Linked DNA regions of Homo sapiens. The protein of the gene in region 4 interacts with the protein of the main gene of each other region in a biochemical or structural test. Each region holds a gene or a part of one and is shown on either strand. Other genes may lie near its edges.

Region 1 (7,725 bases), on a different chromosome or scaffold from region 4:
AGCTCTGCCAGGGGAAGCAGTTCTCCCTGAGAGCCCCAGGCCCCATTCTTGACTTCCCCAGTGCCGGGTGGAGGAAGAGGGAGGGATTAGCCCGAGGCAAGTGGTTCGAGCAGACAGAAGGGAACAAAAAGAGCAGCGAGTCAGGCCTGATCGGGGCCGCATCTACCCCAAAAGAGGGGACCAGCGGATCAACAGCTGAAGCGTAAGGTGCCGCGGCCAGCTCCTGGGTGGGGCTCCAGGTGGCATCCCAGTTGTGGCCACCCAGCCCTTCATCCTGGGCTAGGCAGGCGGGAGAGGAAAGCGCAGACTGCACGGTCCCGGGCACGTCCTCGGCAGGCAGTGGCCTTGCACTGGCCGGCCCTACTCAATGCACTCCATGACATGTATCTGCAGGGTGTCCATATCAGGGGCCTGATACTGGCACTTGGGACAGCAGAAGTCAGGTGGCTCCTCGGGGGGGCTCCTCCTCTGGCTGGGCAGGGCCAGGGGAGAGGAGAGGTAGGCTGGGAAAAGAGAAGAGTCAGAGGGAAGGGGAGGATGGAGGGGGACGGAGACTTGGCAGGACTGTCAATGGCAGGCCTGGTCTCACAGGCCACTCATGTAAGACCAGGAGCCGCCGCTACCACGGCATGCCTCCCTTAGCCTCGGGGAAGGGGGTGGGCTACCGATGGGGTGGCCTACACGAGCTCCCGCCGTCAAGTCTCCAGAGAGCAACAGGAAGGTCGAACTGTGACCTCCCGCGGCGCAGCACCTGCCCTCCCCACCCACCTCCTCCCGCAGGCCCAGTTCTCGCTCACTCACCAGGGGCGGGGGGCAAGGGGGCCTGGGAGACCTCGACATGCCGCTTCCTCATGTCCTCGATCCTTTGGAAACAGAAACCGTCCAGTCAAGCCACGCATTTCTGTAAAGCTCCTTGGCTGGACTAGTGTCAAAGCAGCTCTTGGAAGCTCAGGTGAGAGGAGAGGGACCACAGTGAGCCCTAACCCAGAACACCAGGAGCCATCCGTCTCCTGTGGTCACCACTGGCAACCCCCCAGTGTCGCACCCACTGCGGGGTCACCACTGGCGACCCCCCAGTGTCGCACCCACTGCTCACACGGGCACGCTCTCAGAGGCCCACCTGGCCGACTCCTGACAGCTGGCCTTCAGTTTGCTGTACTCCCTCTGCAGCTGCTCCAGCTGCTCCTGCAGGAGCTCCTTCTTCTCGGCCAGCTTCTCCCGGGCCTGCCTCTCAGCCTGGAAGTCCGCCTTGTAGATATCCGCCTGGCAAATCCAACAGAAAGGGATGTGCCCGCCACAAGCCAGCCACCCACCAGGCACTGCGCCAGGCACCACAGGAACAAAGCAGAACCCACTGCTGTCCTCCCAGAGCCCCCAGCGGCGCAGAGGAAACAGATACGTCGGCGAGTAATGCCAAGCTCACCGAGAGGTCTAAGGAGCAGCACAAGTGGCTCAGAAGCTTACGAAAGGCCACTACAAAATGATGCCAAAGAGGCCGGGTGCGGTGGCTCACGCCTGTAATCCCAGAACTTTGAGAGACTGCGGTGGGCAGATCACCTGAGGCCAGAAGTTCGAGACCAGCTGGGCCAACATGGTGAAACCCTGTCTCTACTAAAAATACAAAAATTAGACGGGCATGGCGGCAGGCGCCTGTAATCCCAGCTACTCAGGAGGCTGAGGCAAGAGAATTGTTTGAACCCGGGAGGCAGAGGTTGCAGTGAGCCAAGATCGTGCCACTAGTGGCACTCCAGCCTGGGCAACAAGAGCAAAACTCAATCTCAAAAAGCAAAAGCAAAAAAAAAAAAAAAGACGCCAAAGAGACTCTCCAGGTCCCAGTGCCAGGGTGGGTCAGAGAGGAGGGCCCTCACCTGGGCCTTCAGCACCGGAACGGTCTCCATCACAATCTTGTGCTGCTCGGCCTCCTCCTTCAGCTTATCGATCACCTCCTGTTTGGCCACCAGGGCCTCCTCGGCCTGCTGGAGCTGCTGTTTGAGATCTTCCAGCTGCATTCCCTAAGGACGGGCAAGGGGAGCTGACGGAGCCTCGTCAGCCCAGGGCGAGGCTGGCTGAGAAGAACTGAGAAGGATGAAAGAGTGGCCCTGGCTGACCAGGCTGGGTGATGCCAGCCCCTGATTTGAGGGCCCATTGCAGGATCTCAGCGTGCACAGGGAGATGGCTGCGTCCTGTCACGGCCCAAAACGACAGAGGAGATGCTGAGGTTTTTTTCAGGACTGAAGAGGCCGCTGAGGTCATCTGGTACAACCTCCCAGCTGGGCCGACATTCCCTTCCCAGAATCCCCAGCTCCACAGCCCTCCTCCCACCCTTCACAGGCCACAGGCCACACCCACTCACAGCCAGCCGGTCCTGTGCCCGCCATGTGCACAGCTCAGCTGAGAGCCCTCAGTCCTTCCACTCTGCCACCTGGTCAGAGGTGCACTCCTCCCACGCAGGCATCTCCAGCCCCCTGAGACACACACAGACACACCCCACCAACGCCCCCCTCCAGAGATTAAGTGGCCAGTTTTGTAGCTAACTCTTCCCCATGTGACCTGGCTTCAGGCTTTGTCCTTATAAATCTCCTCTGGGTACACTTACGATTGACGGTGTCCTGCTAAAATGTGATCACTAGCAAACTGCACCCCAGCTTAGGTCTGATGAGGACAAACTAGGAAAAGGCTCCCAGCCAACACTGGGGTGGAAATGCTGTCGGGCTTACCTTGGCTTGGGGGAAGCTGAGCCAGGTGCCAGATGGCGATGGCTGGCAAGAGGGAATGTCCATGGAGACAAGACGTCCCCAGCCCCACAGAGGGAGCACCCCAAGGCTCTGGCCCAGCCCCCCATTAAGATGGCCTGCTGACACTCCTGAGAGCAACATCCTGGGGTTGCCATCTCCCCACAGCTTCCCTGAGCTGTCGCAGCTGCAGCCTGACACAGGTCTAAGGCAAGTCTAAGGCAGGTCTACCCATTCTCAAGGTTCAGGGCCACGGGGAGAGGAAGAGGCAAGGCCAGCCCTAGAGCCCCAGTGGTCGCACTCACTCGCTTCCGCTCACTGCCCACCACGCTGCTCTTGATGTGGTTGTCGTATTCTTGGAAGAGCTGGTGATAGGCCACCTGCAACTGGGCCAGCTTCCTCCTGAGGAAAGGGAGCTTTTGCTGGAGAAACCACCTCATGCCAGTCCAGCCACGGTGCTGCCTGCTTCCAACTCTACCCCCTTCCTTCCCTCCCTCGCATCACAGGCCTGGAATGGGGTCTTCCAAGGCTGTGTGAGGACTCCTGAGGCCGTCAACTCTAAAGCAGGCTTTGGTGGGCTGGTCACCAGGCAGTTAATATCGTTTTCCTAAAAGCTAGTATTTTTAATGTTTATAATAAAATCGCGGCCAGACGCGGTGGCTCACGCCCATAATCCCAACACTTTGAGAAGCCAAGGCAGGAGGATCGCTTGAGCTCAGGAGTTCAAGACCAGCCCGGGCAACATAGGAAAACGCCACCTCTACCAAAAATGCAAAAATTAGCCAGGTGTGCTGGCCTGCGCCTATAGTCCCAGCTACCTGGGAGGATCGCTTGAGACCAAGAGGCGGAAGGTACAGTAAGCCGAGATTATGCCACTGCACTCCAGCCTGGACGGTAGAGCAAGACCCTGTCTTGAAAATAATAGTAATAATACAATGGAACTACCCTGCACTGTTCAAAACTGTGAACTTCACAAACAGCTCAGAAAGGCAGGGGAACTGTTCTAGATTAAAGGAGACTGAAAAGGCACGCCAAGGACAGGAACCTGAGGTCCCAGATTGGATGCTGGTAGACGGGGGGGTTTGGGGGTATTTTTGTTGTCTTTCTGTTGCCCAGGCTGGTCTTGGAACTCCCGGGCTTAAGCCATCTACCCACTTTGGCCTCCCAAAGTGTTGGGATTACAGGCGTGAGCCACAGCACCTGGCCTAGAAGGGGTTTTAAAGGACAAGTCCCCTGATGACCTAGTGGCTAGGAAAAAAAAACTACAAAAAAGGCCACGTGTGGACACGCAGTGAAACGTGGTCTGGAGAGCAGATGGCATGACTGTATCAAAGACAAACCGGGTGTCATCATGGTCGCCTCTACCGTTAGCAAGGCTAAGGGACAGAATGGGCCCACAGCCACAGGCAGAATCTGAAGGAGTCCTCAGAAGGCAGAAAGAACCATGGACCCGACACTTCTCAGCCTTTCGGCTAAGATCAAGTGTAGAACCACAGACCCTGCGGTGCGGCCCCGCCCCCGCTGACTCACTTCTCCTCCGAGGCGGCCTGGCGCTCCATGCGGAGCGCGGCCTCCACGCTCTGGCCCTGCATGCGCAGCTGGTCCACCTGCACGCTGTGCTGCTGCTGCAGCGCCTCGCGCTCACTCTCCAGCTGCCGCGCCTGCTCGCTGGCCGCCCGGGCCCTGGCACGGGGAAAGAGCAGACTCAGGGAGGACGAACGGGGGGACGGCAGGGGCTATGCGCAGGGCGTGGGCGGGGGGTGGGGGTCGGCTCTGAACACCCTGTGACTGCGAGCTGATGCCAGGCGGCAGGGTGGAGGCACCGTCAACAGACACGAGGACAACTGCAGGGGGCCAGGTGGGAGCAGCAGGTGAGGAGCTTTGCTTAAGACGTGTTTGCTTCAATGCAGGGGCCCAGCAGGTGACCAAGTACAGATGGCAAGGAGACCTGGAAGCCAGGGGAAGGGGGTGGTCCGAGAAAAGGATGGGGTCGCCTGCATCCCGCAGTGCTGGGGCCAGGTGAGAGGAGCCCTCGGAACTGCCCGTGGAGTTCCACTGGGGGACTGCTGGGGGCCCCAGCAAAAGCAGTCTCAGTGGAGGGGGTCAGGAGAGACTGCTGTTCCAAAAATGAGAGACTGCCCACCTGGGCGTGCAAGCACTGAGCTCAATGCAGACCGGGCCTCGGCCCCATCCCTGCTGCTGCCCAGAGCTCTGCTGGAGTCCCAGACGACCTGCTCGGATGCTCAGTTCCCACACCTGCCCCCCTACAGCTCCCTTAACCTCCAGTTTCCAGGGTCTGGCCTCATCCCACCACACCAAGCCCTTCCACAGCCTCACTGCAGGGACAATGGTGGGTGCATCTGTCCAGGTCCTGGGTGGCCTCTGGCCACAGGCAGACACGGCCCTTCTCCAGTCACCCCAACTCTGCCTGGCAGGCCTGGCTGCTTGGCTCTCCCCTCCGCGCCTGCCTGCATACTGCCCCCACACCCTGCACGGGTTCCCTCTGCCCATCAGAGCCTGGGTCAAGCTCCCCTCCCCTCTGCCCTGCTGGCTGCCCCAAGTGCACCTTGACCGCCTACTGTGCTGGGATGGCTGGGGCCCCCCTGGCAGCTGATCCATCTGTCTGGAGGGCAGAAGCAGGACCGAATGAGAACCACAGAAACCTCCCTGCCCTTTGACCCAATGGTCCCACTCACAAGAACCAAGACCCCTTTGCAAAAGAGAGTAACCAGCAGGCCTGAGGCCACCGGCTGGCAAGGTTGGCCCTTGGCTGGTGAAGTTCCCTTGCCACAGTGACACTTTCTCTAGTGGTCAGGTCGGTCCCTGCACCTAGGCCATTTGTAGGAAGAACGTGGTTGACGTGAGCACCCGCTCTGCTGCTGGGAGTCGGGGATTTAGGTACCTGCCTGGCAGAGGGCGCTGACAGGACCTGCCCCCAGTAAACACCCAGGGCGCTGAGTCTCTAGCGGGCATCCCTGGGCAGGAACACGGCCCGTGTGGGAGGCGCTTCTCACTGTGCCGCTCGCAGGGCAGCGGGAGGCTGGGACAGGGCTTCTCCAACTCCCCCCACGGCTCCTGCCCTGGCGGCTCCTGCCCTGTGCCTTTTTCCCTGTCATCAACCTCAGCCACGAGGGCGACTGTGCGCCGGTCCCAGAAGTCCTTCCAGAGAACTAGACACTGTGGGTGTGGGCTCGGGGCCCCCAGAATGCCTCCTAAGGAAATAATCCAAACTCCATCAAAGGGTCACAGAGTGCGGAGAGCCGGCTGGGACCCAGGTCCCGGATGCCTGGCCCAGACCTCTCCCGACGTCTGCCCCGACGTCTTTACGCAGCCTGCCCCGGTCTATCCTCATCAAGGAGCACCCTGGAGGCCCCTAAACCCACCTCATTGCTTTTGGAAACCCTGGAAGGGGTCTCCGGAGCCGGCTCCCCCGACTCACCGACCCTCCAGAGCCTGGCATTCCTTAGTGGCAGCCTCCAAGCGACTCTGGCTCTCCTGCAGCTCCCCGAGCAAGGACGTCACCTGGGCTTTCACAGAGGCCTTGTCCTCAGCCATCTGCTGCAGGATAAAAAGCCACTTCCTGTCAGCACTGCTTTCTCCCCAGCGGCCCACTCCTGCCATCCGCAAGCCCGGGGCAACCCGCAAGCGGCTGAGGCCTGCGCGCCATGAGGCCTTTTTTCCTGCCCTCGGCACCCCCAAACCTGGGTGCCCTAGGGCCTCATGAGCCCAAGGGCCACCCAACCCTCCCCAGCTGCCCACCTTAACCCTCTGCCACAGGGTGACACACAGATGGGGCAAAAAGAGATCCCCAAAGAGACGAAGGAGCACAAAGCTGCCTTGAGGTTGTCAACGGCTTAGTCACTGCCCCGGCAAGCAGGCCTCGAGGGCTGAACCCGGTGGCCTTGCAGCTACAGCCCCAGCAGGGGATCTCTCTCCGTCTCTCTGAGACTTGGGACAAAAGGAGGCCAGACACGAATAGGGCAAAGTAAACACAGGCCCCAGTCCACACCCGGGGCCGCCAGGATGGGAGAGTTTGTGCAGATCAAGAGTGGACACTGAATTTTGTTAAACACTGGGAACTGCAGAACCTCTCGGCAGGCACACTGCACTCAAACCCCTGCCCGAAGACACCCGGCCACCACCTCGCGGGGCCTCTGGGAGCCTAAGGCCGCGCCCCTGGGACGCCCCAGCCCCCTTTTGAGTGAGTTCCCGTCTGGAAACGCTCAGGGCTGCCCAGAGCATGTACTGTCTGTTCCGGCCAACACCTGACCTCCCTTTCTGACAGCATTTACTACAAAGGGCTTACCCTGTCCCTTTGAGACATCTGTGTAGCACCCACAACCCAGGGGCTTTCCCGAGGGCCCCGCAGCCACTCCTTGGAAACGGAAACCTCAGGAGGCGCGGGGCCCAGTCTCCCAGTCTCCACGGGACGGAAGCATCCCAACCTTGGTAAGCACCGGCAGCTCCCACACACGGCTGGCCTCGCGGCAAGGACGCTGGCTGCCCCGTCATCTTTCACCTGAGCCTGCACTCGCCCCCTCCCGACTCCCTCCTTCTCCCTTCGCAAGGCCAGGCCGCCTCTGCTGGGGCGGGAACGGAGCTCAGCTCTCTCCCCCGCAAGCAGGGGTTTCTGAAGAAGATCTCTTTTGCCAGCTTGAACAAAGGCCCGCTTTTGTGTACCTTTGTGTATCTCCGGTGTTCTTGTCAAAAGAGGAGGACAGGCACAGAGGCCCGCGGGGACAAGGCCACAGGATGACGGAGATGGAGGCTGGAGAGGTGCAGCCGGCGGCCCCCGGCGCCGTGGAGAGGCCTGGAAGGCAGCTCCCTCGCGGCCCTGGCGGGGAGCCCACCCTGCCGACACCACCGCTAGCTCAGCCTCCAGGCCTCCAGAAGCGGGAGGCCACGCGTTTCTGTGGCTTCGGCCCCGCAGTCTGTGGTGCTTGGTCACGGCAGCTGTAGAAAACTCATCCACTTCCCACACAGGAAATCAACG
Region 2 (3,625 bases), on a different chromosome or scaffold from region 4:
GTTCCTCCTGTTTGACCTCAATCCCTTCTGCCGCAAGGAGAGCCCAGCCCTATTTCTGGCTGTGCAGGGACAGGGACAGCACCTACTTTTCTGGCACATGGGGGAGTCCGCCCTGGAGGGAGGCAGCTCTTTCTGCATGAGTCGCCATCCTGGGTGCTCATCTTTCAGGGACCCTAGGAGCCCTGGCCATCACCCCAGCTGATGGGGTCTGCCAGCTGGGTTCGGAAGCCTGCACTCTGAGATGCTGGGTGCCCTGTCACCAGGTGTGCTTCTGCCCCGTTCCCAGCCTGCCCCTCCCCTGAATGCCTGTCCTAGGCTGTGTGCAGCTGGTCGGGCTGGGCAGCCCTGGGACCCAGCTGGGCACCTGTTCTCCCATTAACACAGGGTGCCCTGGTCCTGGTCCCCGTTCCTGCCTTGAGGCCTGCCACCCTCCTGCCCTGCCCTCCAAGGGTATGGGGGGCCTGGGCAGTGCTCAACCTCTGCCCAGCCTTGACCAGAGACCTTGCTAATTGACAATGGACAATGCTGGTGCCCAGCCCAGACTCTGGGGTGGGGCAGTGCTTGAGGGGGTCCTTGACTGTGGGACCTGAGGGGCTCTCTGGCAGCTCCTCACGTGTGCACATCACCTTATAGTCACCCTTCATCCTGGGTCATTGAGAGTCCTGTCTGCAGCCAGATGCCAGCAGGCTGTGGTCCTGTAGTCCCTGAGCCATGGAGGCAGGGTGGGCTCATCCTGTGCACCTTGTTCCACAGTCTCCCTCTTTCCCAATTTACAAGAAGACCAATAAGAAAAATAAGAAAACAAGAAAGAAAAAGGAAAAATAAAGTTATCACCTCCTGGTAGCAGGGAGGGTCTCTCAGAGCTGGGCTGCACTACCTCCTGTCGCCTGCTGGGGCTGCTGTGAGGGCAGCTTTGCGTCTCAGCTGTTGAGGGTTGTCTCCGTGCTCCTGCACCCCTCATGTCCCTCCCTCCCAGAGCTGCCTCTGTGGGGGGCTGGTGGCTTGCTGCTCTCTGACATCAGTCCTGCCTGGAGACCCCTTGGAGATCCAGGTGCTTTGAAGGTCTTGAGCACACTTGAGGGTGTGCTGGGAGTGGGGAGCGAAGCTCATGACTGTCCCGTCTGCCCACCTCTGCAGCTCAGCCCACCCTTCAAGCCCCAGGTCACGTCGGAGACTGACACCAGGTATTTTGATGAGGAGTTCACGGCCCAGATGATCACCATCACACCACCTGACCAAGGTGAGGGGCCACTGCCTGCCCCCGCCCACTCCCTTTTCTCTCCACACTCAGAGAGGCCTGCAGTGTTCAGCTTTTTTGGCTTCAGATGTTTTAAAATCTAAATATTTAAAAAGGTTCCTTTTGGAGAGTGCCAATGATCAGGGTGGGAGGCAGTGCTCTGAGGGCCCAGGTCCCTGTGTCAATCTGTGGGGCCCTGTCTCAGTTTCCTGGCAGTATGGCAGCGTGCTGGCCGTGCTTTAAGAGGTTGGCTTCCTACTGGAGCTGTGGGTGGGTGGAGGTGGCAGGGAGGTGGGGCACCGGGGTCTGAGCTGTCTACACCCACAGATGACAGCATGGAGTGTGTGGACAGCGAGCGCAGGCCCCACTTCCCCCAGTTCTCCTACTCGGCCAGCGGCACGGCCTGAGGCGGCGGTGGACTGCGCTGGACGATAGCTTGGAGGGATGGAGAGGCGGCCTCGTGCCATGATCTGTATTTAATGGTTTTTATTTCTCGGGTGCATTTGAGAGAAGCCACGCTGTCCTCTCGAGCCCAGATGGAAAGACGTTTTTGTGCTGTGGGCAGCACCCTCCCCCGCAGCGGGGTAGGGAAGAAAACTATCCTGCGGGTTTTAATTTATTTCATCCAGTTTGTTCTCCGGGTGTGGCCTCAGCCCTCAGAACAATCCGATTCACGTAGGGAAATGTTAAGGACTTCTGCAGCTATGCGCAATGTGGCATTGGGGGGCCGGGCAGGTCCTGCCCATGTGTCCCCTCACTCTGTCAGCCAGCCGCCCTGGGCTGTCTGTCACCAGCTATCTGTCATCTCTCTGGGGCCCTGGGCCTCAGTTCAACCTGGTGGCACCAGATGCAACCTCACTATGGTATGCTGGCCAGCACCCTCTCCTGGGGGTGGCAGGCACACAGCAGCCCCCCAGCACTAAGGCCGTGTCTCTGAGGACGTCATCGGAGGCTGGGCCCCTGGGATGGGACCAGGGATGGGGGATGGGCCAGGGTTTACCCAGTGGGACAGAGGAGCAAGGTTTAAATTTGTTATTGTGTATTATGTTGTTCAAATGCATTTTGGGGGTTTTTAATCTTTGTGACAGGAAAGCCCTCCCCCTTCCCCTTCTGTGTCACAGTTCTTGGTGACTGTCCCACCGGGAGCCTCCCCCTCAGATGATCTCTCCACGGTAGCACTTGACCTTTTCGACGCTTAACCTTTCCGCTGTCGCCCCAGGCCCTCCCTGACTCCCTGTGGGGGTGGCCATCCCTGGGCCCCTCCACGCCTCCTGGCCAGACGCTGCCGCTGCCGCTGCACCACGGCGTTTTTTTACAACATTCAACTTTAGTATTTTTACTATTATAATATAATATGGAACCTTCCCTCCAAATTCTTCAATAAAAGTTGCTTTTCAAATTTTTGGCTCACTTTGCTGGGTGGAAGAGTGGGTGGCCAGGGAGGGAGTGGGGAGTCCTGGGAGGGAAGCAGCATCCTCAGAGCAGCTGGTCCTCCCCAGCTCCTCCTGGTGGGCACCGCCACCCCAACAGGTTTGGGGACAGGCTGTGTGGTGGGCCGAGGCGGGAGTATACAGGCCTGTTCCCAGGGGCAGCCTCCCATGGAAGGTGTTCCACCCCCATCTCCAGAGGCCTGGCCTGAGGGGAGATGGGAGGCCCTGGCTGGCCCTGCCCCCGTTGGGATCCACCTCTTCTTCCCTTGACCCCACCCAGCTTCACCCCAGCCATGAAGGAGACCATTGGACCACGTGGCCATCTGCCCCCCAGCCCCAGGTGCTGTTCCCCTGGGTAGGGCAGTGAATGAGACAGACCACCAGGAAGGACAGATAGGGCAGGGCCCAGAGTTGGGGCCAAGGTCATGGCCTGGGCCACGGTGGAAGTAAGGCTGGGAGGCCTGAGTGGCCTGTTCGAAGCTGGACAGAGCGGGAGGAGGGGCTGCAGGCGGTGGGAGGAGGGGCTGCAGGGGGCGGGAGGGGACAGGCTGGGGCCCAGGTTACCCCAGAGCACTACATCGAGCTCTGAGCCGGAACAGCCTGCAGAATGTGCCGGTGCTGCCACCTGGTGGACGCCTGCCGGAACCGCGCCCTGAGCCAGGAGAGGAGTCCACTGCCGAGCAACTGACAGCGGGTTGGCGACCAGGTTCCGGGTGGTTGGGTGACCAGCACGAGCCAGGGGCCTGGAGCTTCAGCTTCCTCATCTCTCAAATGGACTCCCCGTAGGTGTGGATGGTTGCAGAGTCAGGCCCCTGGCGATGGCAATTGGCCCCTCTCTAAGGCATTCCCAGGGGTGCGTGGCTGCCCTCACTTCCACTGGAGGGGGTGCCCCATAGGGAGCACAGGCTGGCGAGGATGTTCTGGGTCTGTGGGAGCCAAGAACAGCCACATCTGGAGC
Region 3 (4,653 bases), on a different chromosome or scaffold from region 4:
CCTCAAAATTTCCTGTCAACAGCTTTAGTTTGTGAACCTTAAACTCTTATTGAAAATCTATGTTTAGGGTGTAAGCAGTTTATCATGGTATCTTCCTCCCCCTTACCCTTCTCCTCTTTTTGGGAAGTCATCCTTCACATATTGTTTGGTTTCATCCTGATGCATCTAGAGGACATAAGAATGGGGTTTCTGAAACAGTTCTCCCATGAATTAATTAGTCCTGCAACTTATAGGGTTTCCAGAGTTATTGGGTAAACTACAGTTTATTTCCCTCTTGGAGTGTTATAATTCACTAGTAAAAGTATTTCTCTTCCAACTTCTTAGAGATCCAGCAGTGAGGTCATCTACCCTGGTTAACCACATTCATCCTTGGAGAAACACTTTATATTAAGCTTGTTTCTTATCTATGAAATGAGTGGTTTAGATCAACTTCATCTCTAGAGTACCTGTTTTCTATTTCTTTTCAGATTTTATAGATCCTGATACTTAACTTTTTTTTTTTTTTTCTGTCCCTTTATATAGAATTCTAGATGAGCTTTCCCATACAACTGTGCTTCAGGAAATCTTAAGTTTGTTTAGGTTTCCTAGTCATTCTAGGAAATTGGATATACTTCATTGTTGTGCATTATAAAATGATTAGATTAAAAAAAAAGCTTTTCCTTAAGAGAGACAGACACTGAAGAATGATGCGTATGTATGAAGGGATGGATTGATGAGGAATGTTACATGTTCAGCAAACTATTTCAGGGAGGCATATCCTTGGTTAAGTTAAAAAGTGTAAGTTCACATTTACTGAGCATCATTTACACTGTGTTGCACAAAGTTTTATTACAGAGGTATGATAAAACTTAGTGTTAATATGGCTTATTGCATGAATTTTGATGCATAGATAGATGTTCCCCAATAATTACTATTATAAAATGATTCTGTATCACAATGTAGCAGTAAATACTTTTTTTGCTTTATTATTTTATTATTTGCATTATTTTGCTCCTTAATGCAAAATAACTTTTTAAGATAACCTGTGTGAGTTTTGAACCTAAGACCGTATCTTTTGTTTGGCAGCCTTTTTTCCACTAATAGACACTTTATGGAATTAGCTGCAAGAAAGGCTCTTAGAAACCATTTAGTCCAACAGCCTCATGTTACAGATGAAAATACTGAGGCTCTGTGACAGAAAGTCACCTTTTTTTCCTCTACTAACTCTAGACTTACTCCTTTGGGGAAAAAAAACAAAAACAAAAACCTGTCTTGAGGTATGAATGATCCCTTTCCTTTTTAGTACAAGAAAATATATTTAAAATCCAGTTCAAAATAATATCTCCTTTTAGGTTATTAACATAACAATAGGGCTTTGTGTATATACTGCCAGAGTTAAGAGTTAAATATTAACCTGTTAAATTCCTGTTCAGGTTTACTTTTGGACATCAAGCCCATCACTGCCAGCCAGTGAAGAAGGATTCCAGCCTATGCCCTCAATCACAATAAGACCACCAGATGACCAACATCTTCCTACTGCAAATACTTGCATTTCTCGACTTTACGTCCCACTCTATTCCTCTAAACAGATTCTCAAACAGAAATTGTTACTCGCCATTAAGACCAAGAATTTTGGTTTTGTGTAGAGTATAAAAAGTGTGTATTGCTGTGTAATATTACTAGCAAATTTTGTAGATTTTTTTCCATTTGTCTATAAAAGTTTATGGAAGTTAATGCTGTCATACCCCCCTGGTGGTACCTTAAAGAGATAAAATGCAGACATTCCTTGCTGAGTTTATAGCTTAAAGGCCTAAGGAGCACTAGCAACATTTGGCTATATTGGTTTGCTAGTCACCAACTTCTGGGTCTAACCCCAGCCAAAGATGACAGCAGAACAACATAATTTACACTGTGATTTATCTTTTTGCTGAGGGGGAAAAAATGTAAATGTTCTGAAAATTCACTGCTGCCTTTGTGGAAACTGTTTCAGCAAAGGTTCTTGTATAGAGGGAATAGGGAATTTCAAAATAAAAAATTAAGTATGTTCTGTGTTTTCATTTTAACTTTTTTTATGGTGTTTAATTTGTGGTTGGCTGCAACTGTGTATCATGTATATGGAACTTGTAAAAAAGTTCTCGACATTCAGATCTTAAGAGATGAAATCACTTTTACCTATAAAAACCACTTTTATTGCGGTTTGACTGCATTGAGCTCTAGGATATTAAATGATATCACTAATATTTTGCATGTAATTTGCTCATTTGAGTGAGGGCACTTTTTTTGTACATATGATGGGGCCAATGCACAATACTTTTATCACAATCAACTTTTTCTTTGTATCCCTATTTCAATGAGCAGTCAGTCTCAAGAGGTTACTGCACTTCAGTTCTAACTAGACATTTGTACTAAGGTATTTCAGTTATGTAAACTCAGCCTGGGCACTTTCTGATAACTGTAAAATGTTTTATAAGATCATGATTATTGAAGATACATTTTGGAAAATTTTAAATGTTCGTGAGCAGCTTAACTACTTTTGTATCTAGCCTTTTTTAAGTATCTTGTTACATTTACTTTTTTAAATAAAGAAATTACAGAAGAAATGTCAAGTAATATTGAAGAAACAATAGTTTTTATTTATGTAGTTGTACATTTTTAAACTAAGGGCAATACACTGACATGGTTATGTGCATAAAAATTTTGACTTAAAGAACTGGAAGTTTATATACACCTGGACTATAAGAAACAGAAGAAAATCAGTCCACATTTTACAGTTAGCAGAGAATCCTAAATGGCACTGGCCTGGCCACCTTTTCATTTTACAAATGGGGGAAGTGAAGTGTGACCCCTTACTTGGCATAGGAAGTTAACTTACACCTAATAACTGACAGGTTTTTGTTTTGATGACCTATTAATTATGTAGCCTAGGATTAATATCCCAAAATTACTCTGGTTTAAGTAGCTTTATTCAGTGGCATAATAACACTGTTTTCTTCCTTAAGTCTTCAATGAAGTGACTTAAAACAGTCACTTTACATATTAAAAATGAGGAGAGCAATTCTCTGGAATCTCTCCTTTCAGTTCCTTTGTAGGATTTCTGGCCTTGAGGATAGTCTTCATGTTCAAAGGCACTATGCTTTTATTATATAACTTCCTTCAGAAGACTGAACCACATGATATTCTCAGCCCTGTTAACACTAAAAATATTTAAAACTGAATGATAGTAGTGACTCATTGTATTACTTAAAACTTATATAACACGCTGTATTAGATGTGTGTAAATTAGCCAAAGGTTATTTTACAAAGTGAGACATTGGTTTTTATGTCTAAATGCTATTTCTGAATAAATGAAATAGTAATTAGATCAAGAGCTGATTAGCATCAATGTGTTTGAAAGATATAAAATTTATACATCACCTTAACCTCTGTATGCACATGATGGGATTGATAAAATATTAAATGAGAACAAACTAGATATGATTAGGACATTTGAAACCCTAATTGTGAATTTATTTTTAATAGTTACTGAAATGAAAATATTTAAAATAATGCACAATGTCTTAAGTCTTCCTAAATCAAGATTTTGGTTAAAAAATACTTCTAATAATAGTAAAAGATTTTTTTTTTAAGTAAATCATAAAACGGTTCTAAATGTAAAATAAAGACATGTAAAATAAAGTTCTCTTTTGGTCTTGTTTAGTGTTTAAATCTAACAATTGAAAACAAATTTAGGAAGAGAAGACCAAGAATGAACTTTACTGAGTGTTTTCAGAGTTTGCTACTACTATTTTTTTCCCTAAATCATCTGGATACCAAGACTATCCAGTAAAATGGATAACTGGGGCAGACTTGAGAGGGTATTTTAAAGGAATGATTTCACTATTTAGTAGCTGCCCCCAAACAACATCCCTCCCATAAAGATACTATTTTTACATTTTAAAGGTAGTCAGCAATTCCTATGTTTAAACTCAAGTTGAGATAATCCCTTGAGGCAGTAGTTTCCATGCTTCTGTATGTTGTAAGATTCATTTGTAAAGTTTGTTAATGCAGATTCTTAAGCATTCCTCATCCTCTTGCCTCCTTTCTGATTCAGTAAGTCTTTGGTGGAGGCCAGGAATCTTCATGCAGATCATCCCAGGTGATTCTGAAACACTGCCCAAAGAATATTTCCTTTTTATTTACAAATATAAATGTCCCGCTGAAAGCTCCTGAGAGCCAAACCTTTCCTACTTAGAACTGCTTACAATCTATGGAAAAGTACATCTATTGATAAACTAGTCCTAGGTTGGATTCTTCCTACTGATAAGGGGCTGGTTGGAAGTGCCTTCAATAGACTGTGCTTGGGTAGTGAATGAAAATATTTTTACTGTTTATGTTAACCTATGTAAGTAGGCATAAACATAGATTATTTAAACACCATTTGATTACCACAGAAGTGATAGTTGTATGAAAAACAATAGGAATGTATTTAAAATGTGACTTTTAAATTTACCTCAAGGTATCTTGGGTTAAGCAAAGTATCTTCTGTTTCTCTAAATTACTTTTATTACAGTACTTACTGTGTGCCATGCATCTTGTTGAGTGTTCCACATGTATTATTTTACCCCATGAGAAAGACTATTATGATCCTCGAGAGGAATGGAGACACAGGTTAAACAACTTGCTCAAAGTTACACA
Region 4 (7,970 bases):
CTAAATCCCTTAGAGCCCAGTTGGGAAAACACGGACCTTGACTTTACATGACCTCCAAGCACTGCTGTTGAGAGTGTGTGTTTGTTTTTTTTTTTTGAGATGGAGTCTCACTCTGTCACCCAGGCTGGAATGCAGTGGTGAGATCTCGGCTCACCACAACCTCTGCCTCCCGGGTTCCAGTGATTCTCCTGCCTCAGCCTCCTGAATAGCTGGGATTACAGGCATGCGCCACCATGCCAGGCTAATTGTTTGTATTTTTAGTAGAGATGGGGTTTCTCCGTGTTGGTCAGGCTGGTCTCAAATTCCTGACCTCAGGTGATCCGCCTGCCTCAGCCTCCCATAGTCCTGGGATTACAGACGTGAGCCTCCGCACCCGGCCCAGAATTTCTGTTCTTTTATTGGCCTCCAGGTAACCAAGAAACACCAACATGTGTTGCAATCAGACTGTCCTCTGAATCCTCCACTGTGAGACCCCGCCAAAGTCATGGCTTTGTTTTCTGTTGTTCATCTGGAATGCAGCCATTCCCCACACCCACCTCCCCGGTCACACCTGCTGCATCTTGGCTGTCCCTGCGCGTGTTTTCTGCTGTCTTTGTCACTGCTCCATCCTGCATGGCATTCTACAGGCTCGTCAAAGTCCAGTTCACCCACTCTTCCAGAACCCTTCATGGTAGGCTGCTGGGAGAAATTGGGCTACAGTCCATCACAGGTGCAAAATGACACCTGAGAGGTGGCCCTGTCACTGACCACTTCTTCCCCAACACATGCTCAGTAGACTAAGTGTGGTGGACAGGCGCACCCTGGCCTGGGGGACCCAGAGGACTTGTGTTTGGAACTCCCCTTGCTTCCTTGGGTCTGCCATGACTGTCTGGCCCCCTCCTGCAGGGGCCTTGTATGAGCAGTTCGAGGAACGTTCTCACTAACTGCAAAGCACTGTACCAATGTCTTGATTACATTTTAGATAGCAGACAGTGGCCCTGGCTCTCCCACTGGAACTGTCTATGTGGCACTTGGCCATGTACAACTTCTTTAATTGGACCATCATGTAGGTCTGATGATAAACCAAATACTCTAACATCAGGGTGGGGGTCTCCCCAACTCCATCTTAAGTCTTTGAGGAAATTGTTTCTTAGGCAAGATAGCTCCATAACTTGTGGGACCACGTGCAAAATACACAGGGCCCCTTGTTCAAAAAGGACAAAAAAAAAAAAAACCTGTGTTCCTTTCTCCCATGGTCTCTCTATCTGTTGTGGCATGTTTTGCATTTGCTGTTTGATGTTGCGCTCCCTTGGGCAGGGGATGCTCATGGGAATGAGTGCAGACCCTCATGGGCGCACAACTCTGACCTGACTTCCCTGCCCTTGTGCTCAGACCCTAGTCGGGGTGGAGGGCAGCAGTGGTCACCTAGCAGGAAGAGACAGGGGAGCGGGCAGCTGAGGCTCCATCCTTAGAAGCAGAAAGGCTGAGGGAGGCAGAACTGTACAAGAGCCACGCCGCGTGCCCCATCATCCCTTCAAATGTAGAAGTGACACAAACTTAGAAGATCACTATGAATTTCAAGACAGTGACCCCAGAGCATGAAACTCCAAGAGAAGAGCCCCCTTCCAAGAGTGAGGCATGCTCTTGAGACTATGAAGTGGACCCTAGGATCAGTATGAAGTAGGTGCTCAGCAAGTGCTTGATGACTATGTGCTGGGAGTATAGACAGGAAAAGGACTCTCAGTTTGAGGACACATCTAGAGAACTGGCAATAGTAGCTGCTCATTCACTGTTGAAGGAATGAATATGATTCCTTTCTCGACCCTCGTCTATACCCAGCTGGGTTGAGACCCTCAGTTTCCTCATCTATAAAATGGGAAAGATAACAAAGGTACCTACATCGGAGAAAATCATGGAATGCATCCCATTTCTGGCATGCAGAGAAAGCCCAGTATTATGAAGATTATTATGCCCGGTGCTAGAGACATAGCAAGCATTTAATAAACGTTTGAGCTGAGGCTTCCTAGAGAATATGAGATTGCAGCAAATTGGATGCAAAACTTCTCTTTACCTTTTTAAATCCGTCTAATTATCTCGTATCAGGATATAGCTGGTGTGGTCACAAAGCAGGGAAAAAGCAATCGATATCCCTGAGTAACTGCAAAACATGGAGTGGCCCCAGGAAGGTGCAGGGAGGAAGTCCCTTTTAGTTTGAAACTATTTTAGTGTCCGATCTTTCTTTCTCCTTCTTTCCCCAATTTTGTATCTGGGCTCAACTTTTTATACATTTTTCAAAAGAAGAGCAGCCTTGGACCTAAGAAAATCTGAGCCTAAGGAGCTCCCCAAAAGCTAGGAGGTCTCTATGGCATCCGTCCCAGAAACAACTAACGCAACTCACAGGCAGCGTGAGCCACCTCCATGCCCCACCCACTGAGCACACACTGCAAAGTCCACTCGGCGGGTTAACTGGGGGTCCTCAGGGATCCCACCAGCAGGGTGGCTGTTTGGCTGCTTCTTCGGGTCCCTGTTGAAACCAACAGACAGTAGTTAGTTTTGAGGCTTACTTACAAATAAGCTGACAGTCAGATGAGGAAGACCCATGCTTCCGGCCAGCCCCTTGAAATTGTTGTCAATGAGTCCCCACTGGGGCAGGGAGTCTCTAAGGACAGGAAAAATGGGGGCCCGAGGGCATCATCTGCCAAGACCTAAGGCAACTGTACCCATACTTTTGCCTGTGTGTCCTCAAAACCCCTCTACTTTATCATGATTCTTCTTCCAGAGAACTCTGTCCTTTGAGGCAAGTCTGTAAACCAATGTTTGCTTTTTAACATTTTGACAAGGGACAGTTGCGGGGGAATCATTACCGTCCTTCCACGCTGTAAATGCAGGTAATGAAAGGATCGGATGAAGGTCGTTGGTGACTCACTGCTCTGACGTTTTACTTGAACTAGCTGTTTCTCTCCCAGAAGACTCAGAACATAAGCACCTGGAATGGATGGGTCGCATTTAGGACTCCAAATGAGTTCTGCTTTCCCTTTTTGTTTTCAATCTATGTGCTCTTTCAGGTACTCAAACCTGTTACCGTTTTATCAGCAAAATGGGACTTTCTACCAATTTGGTGGGATGAGTCTCGCCGGGAGTGATGTGTGTGTCACGGAATTGTGGTCATGCATCGGGATGGCTAATTCACTGATGTCAGATGCTAACGAAGTGGCCTCGGCTACTGAGCATCACGTCACTGTTGGGTTTAGACACAACACGATCTTATGTATGGATGACAGCACCACTAATAACAAATGCCAGTGACCTAAACGGGGAATAACTTCAAATGAAACAAAAAGCACCTCATATCATATTTATCCTGAAAGACACAACTGGCTGAATAAAATCTGAATACAGGAAACATAGCAATGGGTTGATAATTTTGGTGGAACTTGATGATGTGTGACCCACGCCCAACACAGTGTGACCCAAGCCCCCAGGAGGGTTCTCTAAGTGAGTTTGGTCGGAGGCTGCCATTCACAGTGACTTGTATTTGCCACAGCAGCTCTTTCTAAGCCCAGTCCTGGGATTATCTCAGGGATCATCCCACACCCCAGCGGGGAGATGGGCCAAGTCCCCACCTGACCTCATCTTAGGTAGAGAGGCTTCCATGGAAGTGTGGGCTGGCTGTGGGGGGTTGAGACCTAGCCCCGTTCTTTTGACATTTCACCCTGTGTTCTCCAAACTCCAGCAAGCAGCTTCCATAGCTCATTAAATTTGACTGAAGGTCTGATGGCTTGCAAAGCAAATTCTTTACAACTGTTATAAAGGTTTCATTGCTTAAGCATATAATCTAGCAAAACTGCCAAGCCCCCTCCACTCCCTAAACTCTAAGACTTGCCAGGGAAGAGAACAGTGGCCAGTGGACTGCAGGAGTAACTGCACTCAGCCCAGAACTCCCTGGAGGACACAGGGAAGGTTCTGGAAAGGTGGCGGTACCTCACAGGGAGAGACGTGGTGCTCCAGGGCCCAACTTGCTCATGTTCAGATCCTCACTCTGCAACCCACCAGCCGGCTGTGAGTGGCTACACAATCTCTGCCTCAGTTTCCCTATCTGTACATGGGTTGTTCATAGCCTCCACCTCAGAGGGTAGTAATGATGCCAAGCTCTTAGAACAGTGCTCAGCATGTGTGCATCCTGTGCCTACTCTATGCCAAGCACTACAGAGAGAAAAATGAACAAAATAGGGAGAAATCCCTGCCCTCATGGAGTTTACATCGGGGCAGGGGGCGGGGGCGGCACAGAGCAGACAATCAATACAGTGATTAGCCCCCAGTTAGGTTAGGCATTTCCAATCTTTGCCAATAAGCCACATATTTGCCCAAGTTAGGGTGCATCCTTCCCATGAACTTTGACTGTGACCTTTGACTATGGGGTGACATCTTATAGCTGTGGTGTTTTGCCAACCAGCAGCTCTTGGTACACAAAATGTGCTGCTAGCAGGTGCCCCGGCCAACCTTGTCCTTGACCCACCTGCCTGTTAAGAAAAGGGTGTTGTGTTTTGCAACAGCAGTAAAATGGGTCAAGGTTTAGTCAGTTGGAAGTTGTGTCAAAACTCACTATGGTTGGTTGAGGGCTCGAAGTCTCCCAGCATTCATTAACAACTATCTGTTCAATGATTATCTCCCTGGGGCGTGTTGCAGTGAGTTGGCCCAAAGCATAACTGACCCTGGCCGTGATCCAGAGACCTGCCCCCTGACGTCAGTGGCGAGCCTCCCTGGGTGCAGCTGAGGGGCAGGGCTATTCTTTTCCACAGTATTTAAAGCTGGGAGGTTCTGCCACCAAGCACGGCCTTCCCACTGGGAACACAAACTTGCTGGCGGGAAGAGCCCGGAAAGAAACCTGTGGATCTCCCTTCGAGATCATCCAAAGAGAAGAAAGGTAAGTAGAGCTTTGCATTTACATTTTGAAAAATTACAAAGATGAACTCATTTTTTTCCTGAGAGCAATAACTATTTGGCAATGCACAGCCCTGGCAAAAGGCCGTCGAATGTGTTTGAAGGTGTCTGTTGTTGTTTTTGTTCAGGACGCTTGCGTTTTCTATTTCAGGTGACCTCACATTCGTGCCCCTTAGCAGCACTCTGCAGAAATGCCTCCTCAGCTGCAAAACGGCCTGAACCTCTCGGCCAAAGTTGTCCAGGGAAGCCTGGACAGCCTACCCCAGGCAGTGAGGGAGTTTCTCGAGAATAACGCTGAGCTGTGTCAGCCTGATCACATCCACATCTGTGACGGCTCTGAGGAGGAGAATGGGCGGCTTCTGGGCCAGATGGAGGAAGAGGGCATCCTCAGGCGGCTGAAGAAGTATGACAACTGGTAAGCTCGGCCCCCGCTGCCTGTCCCAGCACCCTGCAGGCAGGGCTCCCCTGCGTCTCCTGGGAGTTGGTGGAGAAAGGTGAATGAAGGCCTTCGGGTAGTTTCAGACTCTTGAGAAGATGAATGCAATGGTCAGAACCATACAGACTTGAATTTTGTGACATTAGTGGGCCAGCCCAAGCTTTAAATGAGGTGTGTGCACAAAAGCTCTGCCAACTAGATTCCTGATTAAAAAAAAGGCAGCCCCTCTCCTACAGACCAGGTCCTAGTGGAGTAAATGTCCACCTGGCCATGTCTTAGATGGTCTGTGTGTTCACACTGATGGACTGTTGTTAGCGTGCTCAGCACTCTGCTAGGCATGGAAAGCCACGGTACTGAAGGAGATGGTTCGCTGCCCGTGGTGCTTGGCTGAAAGGAAGCCTGTGATTTTTGCAGCTGGTTGGCTCTCACTGACCCCAGGGATGTGGCCAGGATCGAAAGCAAGACGGTTATCGTCACCCAAGAGCAAAGAGACACAGTGCCCATCCCCAAAACAGGCCTCAGCCAGCTCGGTCGCTGGATGTCAGAGGAGGATTTTGAGAAAGCGTTCAATGCCAGGTTCCCAGGGTGCATGAAAGGTGAGCGGAACATTGATTTGATTGGGTAAAACAGCAGAGAGCCTTTTCTTATTTACATCTATCCTAATGGTAATTCAAACAATAATGGAAGCTCCCACCACCTCAGATGTCTTTCAGTTCCATACATGAAGTTGGCAATGTATTGAAAATGCACATCCCTCTTCTGCTTTTACAGACTGTCTTATACAAACGTGAAAACTAGTTCCATGCATATGGGTTTTAAATAGCTTGGTGGGACCCAATTGCACATTTATGAAAACTCTTTAATTTCAGCAGGCTGTTCACTTTCCAGTGGCCTCTTCTAACCCAGGGGGCTGGTGACCAGCAGGGTGTGGTGGTGTTAGTGGAACACCGTGAAAATGGGTCTACCTGGGAAAAAAATGCTGGTCGTGTTCGAAGTCCAAGGTCATTTCTCACCAGTGCCCACCCATCGCACCCTGTAGGTCGCACCATGTACGTCATCCCATTCAGCATGGGGCCGCTGGGCTCGCCTCTGTCAAAGATCGGCATCGAGCTGACGGATTCACCCTACGTGGTGGCCAGCATGCGGATCATGACGCGGATGGGCACGCCCGTCCTGGAAGCAGTGGGCGATGGGGAGTTTGTCAAATGCCTCCATTCTGTGGGGTGCCCTCTGCCTTTACAAAGTAAGTGTATTATTTCAGAATCAAAAGTCAAAATAAAAAAGAAAGCTGAACGCAAACCCCAGTGAGTGCCTCGGGGACCCCCAAGCAGGGCCCTGGCGCACTGACTTGGGAGGGGTCCTTGTTCACAGAGCCTTTGGTCAACAACTGGCCCTGCAACCCGGAGCTGACGCTCATCGCCCACCTGCCTGACCGCAGAGAGATCATCTCCTTTGGCAGTGGGTACGGCGGGAACTCGCTGCTCGGGAAGAAGTGCTTTGCTCTCAGGATGGCCAGCCGGCTGGCCAAGGAGGAAGGGTGGCTGGCAGAGCACATGCTGGTGAGCCTGCAGGAAGCCCTGATGTGCAGATGAGAGGCCTGGGGGGTGGCAGAAACAAACAGCATTACAGTTCCCACCCGTCAGCACACCTCTCTGAGCGTGCAGGTTCCCGGACAGATCGGGAAACCCCACCAGTAATGATTAGTTTACACATATACATCGCTTTTGAAGGCCCCCAAACACCAGGGGACCATAGAGATCCTTTGGACTTCATGATTCTGGGAGTGTTTGTTTGCACTGATACCTGAAGAAATAGATCTTGAGGGCCTACATTCCAACCTCTGGGCTGAAGTACCAACCTCGGGGAGAAGGAAACAAAGATCACAATAAAGAATCTTGTCCCCAACAGATTCTGGGTATAACCAACCCTGAGGGTGAGAAGAAGTACCTGGCGGCCGCATTTCCCAGCGCCTGCGGGAAGACCAACCTGGCCATGATGAACCCCAGCCTCCCCGGGTGGAAGGTTGAGTGCGTCGGGGATGACATTGCCTGGATGAAGTTTGACGCACAAGGTGACTCTTTTAGACCCAACTCTTGGTAACGATTGGACTCAAGCGAATCGTTGGCCTTCGAAACATGTCACATTCTCCTCAGTCCAGTGTTTGGATTTTTAAACTCTGTTAGTCCAGAGTTGGCCAAGCCTTAGAAATATGGATCCTGTAAGAATTCTTCAACTTAATATTCAATCTGGATTGAAACTGGGCCATATGTTGCTGTTTGTTTACATACATACATTTGTTTAAATGGTATTGGTGGAAAATTGTGGAGGAAGCAAGAGTCGTAAACGTATCAAAGTTGCATATGATGCTTGGATGAAAAGAGATAAATGCATATTCTAGGGAGGGAAAAAAGATTTGAGAAGTTGGCATAGAAATTAGTCCGGCAATATATAAGAGTATATGTTCTGCTTTGCCTGGCACTCACTACTGCTTCTCTGGTTTAAAACTCTCCAGGTCATTTAAGGGCCATCAACCCAGAAAATGGCTTTTTCGGTGTCGCTCCTGGGACTTCAGTGAAGACCAACCCCAATGCCATCAAGACCATCCAGAAGAACA

The links.
Region 1: the proteins of PCK1 (region 4) and IKBKG form a complex in vitro, tested with the Homo sapiens proteins (one study listed by BioGRID and IntAct).
Region 2: the proteins of PCK1 (region 4) and AKT1 form a complex in vitro, tested with the Homo sapiens proteins (one study listed by BioGRID).
Region 3: the proteins of PCK1 (region 4) and UBR5 form a complex in vitro, tested with the Homo sapiens proteins (2 studies listed by BioGRID, with this or other methods).

Annotation. Positions count from the first base shown.
Region 1 is NC_000023.11:154,557,097-154,564,821, reverse strand, and holds part of IKBKG (NF-kappa-B essential modulator), read right to left. Parts: intron 6,291-7,725; coding exon 6,172-6,290; intron 4,416-6,171; coding exon 4,263-4,415; intron 3,135-4,262; coding exon 3,038-3,134; intron 2,013-3,037; coding exon 1,869-2,012; intron 1,264-1,868; coding exon 1,121-1,263; intron 864-1,120; coding exon 802-863; intron 504-801; coding exon 361-503; 3' UTR 1-360. UniProt on the Homo sapiens protein: Regulatory subunit of the IKK core complex which phosphorylates inhibitors of NF-kappa-B thus leading to the dissociation of the inhibitor/NF-kappa-B complex and ultimately the degradation of the inhibitor.
Region 2 is NC_000014.9:104,768,360-104,771,984, reverse strand, and holds the end of AKT1 (RAC-alpha serine/threonine-protein kinase), read left to right. Parts: intron 1-1,137; coding exon 1,138-1,240; intron 1,241-1,564; coding exon 1,565-1,644; 3' UTR 1,645-2,636; downstream 2,637-3,625. UniProt on the Homo sapiens protein: AKT1 is one of 3 closely related serine/threonine-protein kinases (AKT1, AKT2 and AKT3) called the AKT kinase, and which regulate many processes including metabolism, proliferation, cell survival, growth and angiogenesis.
Region 3 is NC_000008.11:102,251,274-102,255,926, reverse strand, and holds the end of UBR5 (E3 ubiquitin-protein ligase UBR5), read left to right. Parts: intron 1-1,412; coding exon 1,413-1,625; 3' UTR 1,626-3,654; downstream 3,655-4,653. UniProt on the Homo sapiens protein: E3 ubiquitin-protein ligase involved in different protein quality control pathways in the cytoplasm and nucleus. Mainly acts as a ubiquitin chain elongator that extends pre-ubiquitinated substrates.
Region 4 is NC_000020.11:57,556,301-57,564,270, forward strand, and holds the start of PCK1 (phosphoenolpyruvate carboxykinase, cytosolic [GTP]), read left to right. Parts: upstream 1-4,809; 5' UTR 4,810-4,903; intron 4,904-5,071; 5' UTR 5,072-5,111; coding exon 5,112-5,335; intron 5,336-5,770; coding exon 5,771-5,952; intron 5,953-6,395; coding exon 6,396-6,599; intron 6,600-6,727; coding exon 6,728-6,915; intron 6,916-7,264; coding exon 7,265-7,427; intron 7,428-7,868; coding exon 7,869-7,970. UniProt on the Homo sapiens protein: Cytosolic phosphoenolpyruvate carboxykinase that catalyzes the reversible decarboxylation and phosphorylation of oxaloacetate (OAA) and acts as the rate-limiting enzyme in gluconeogenesis.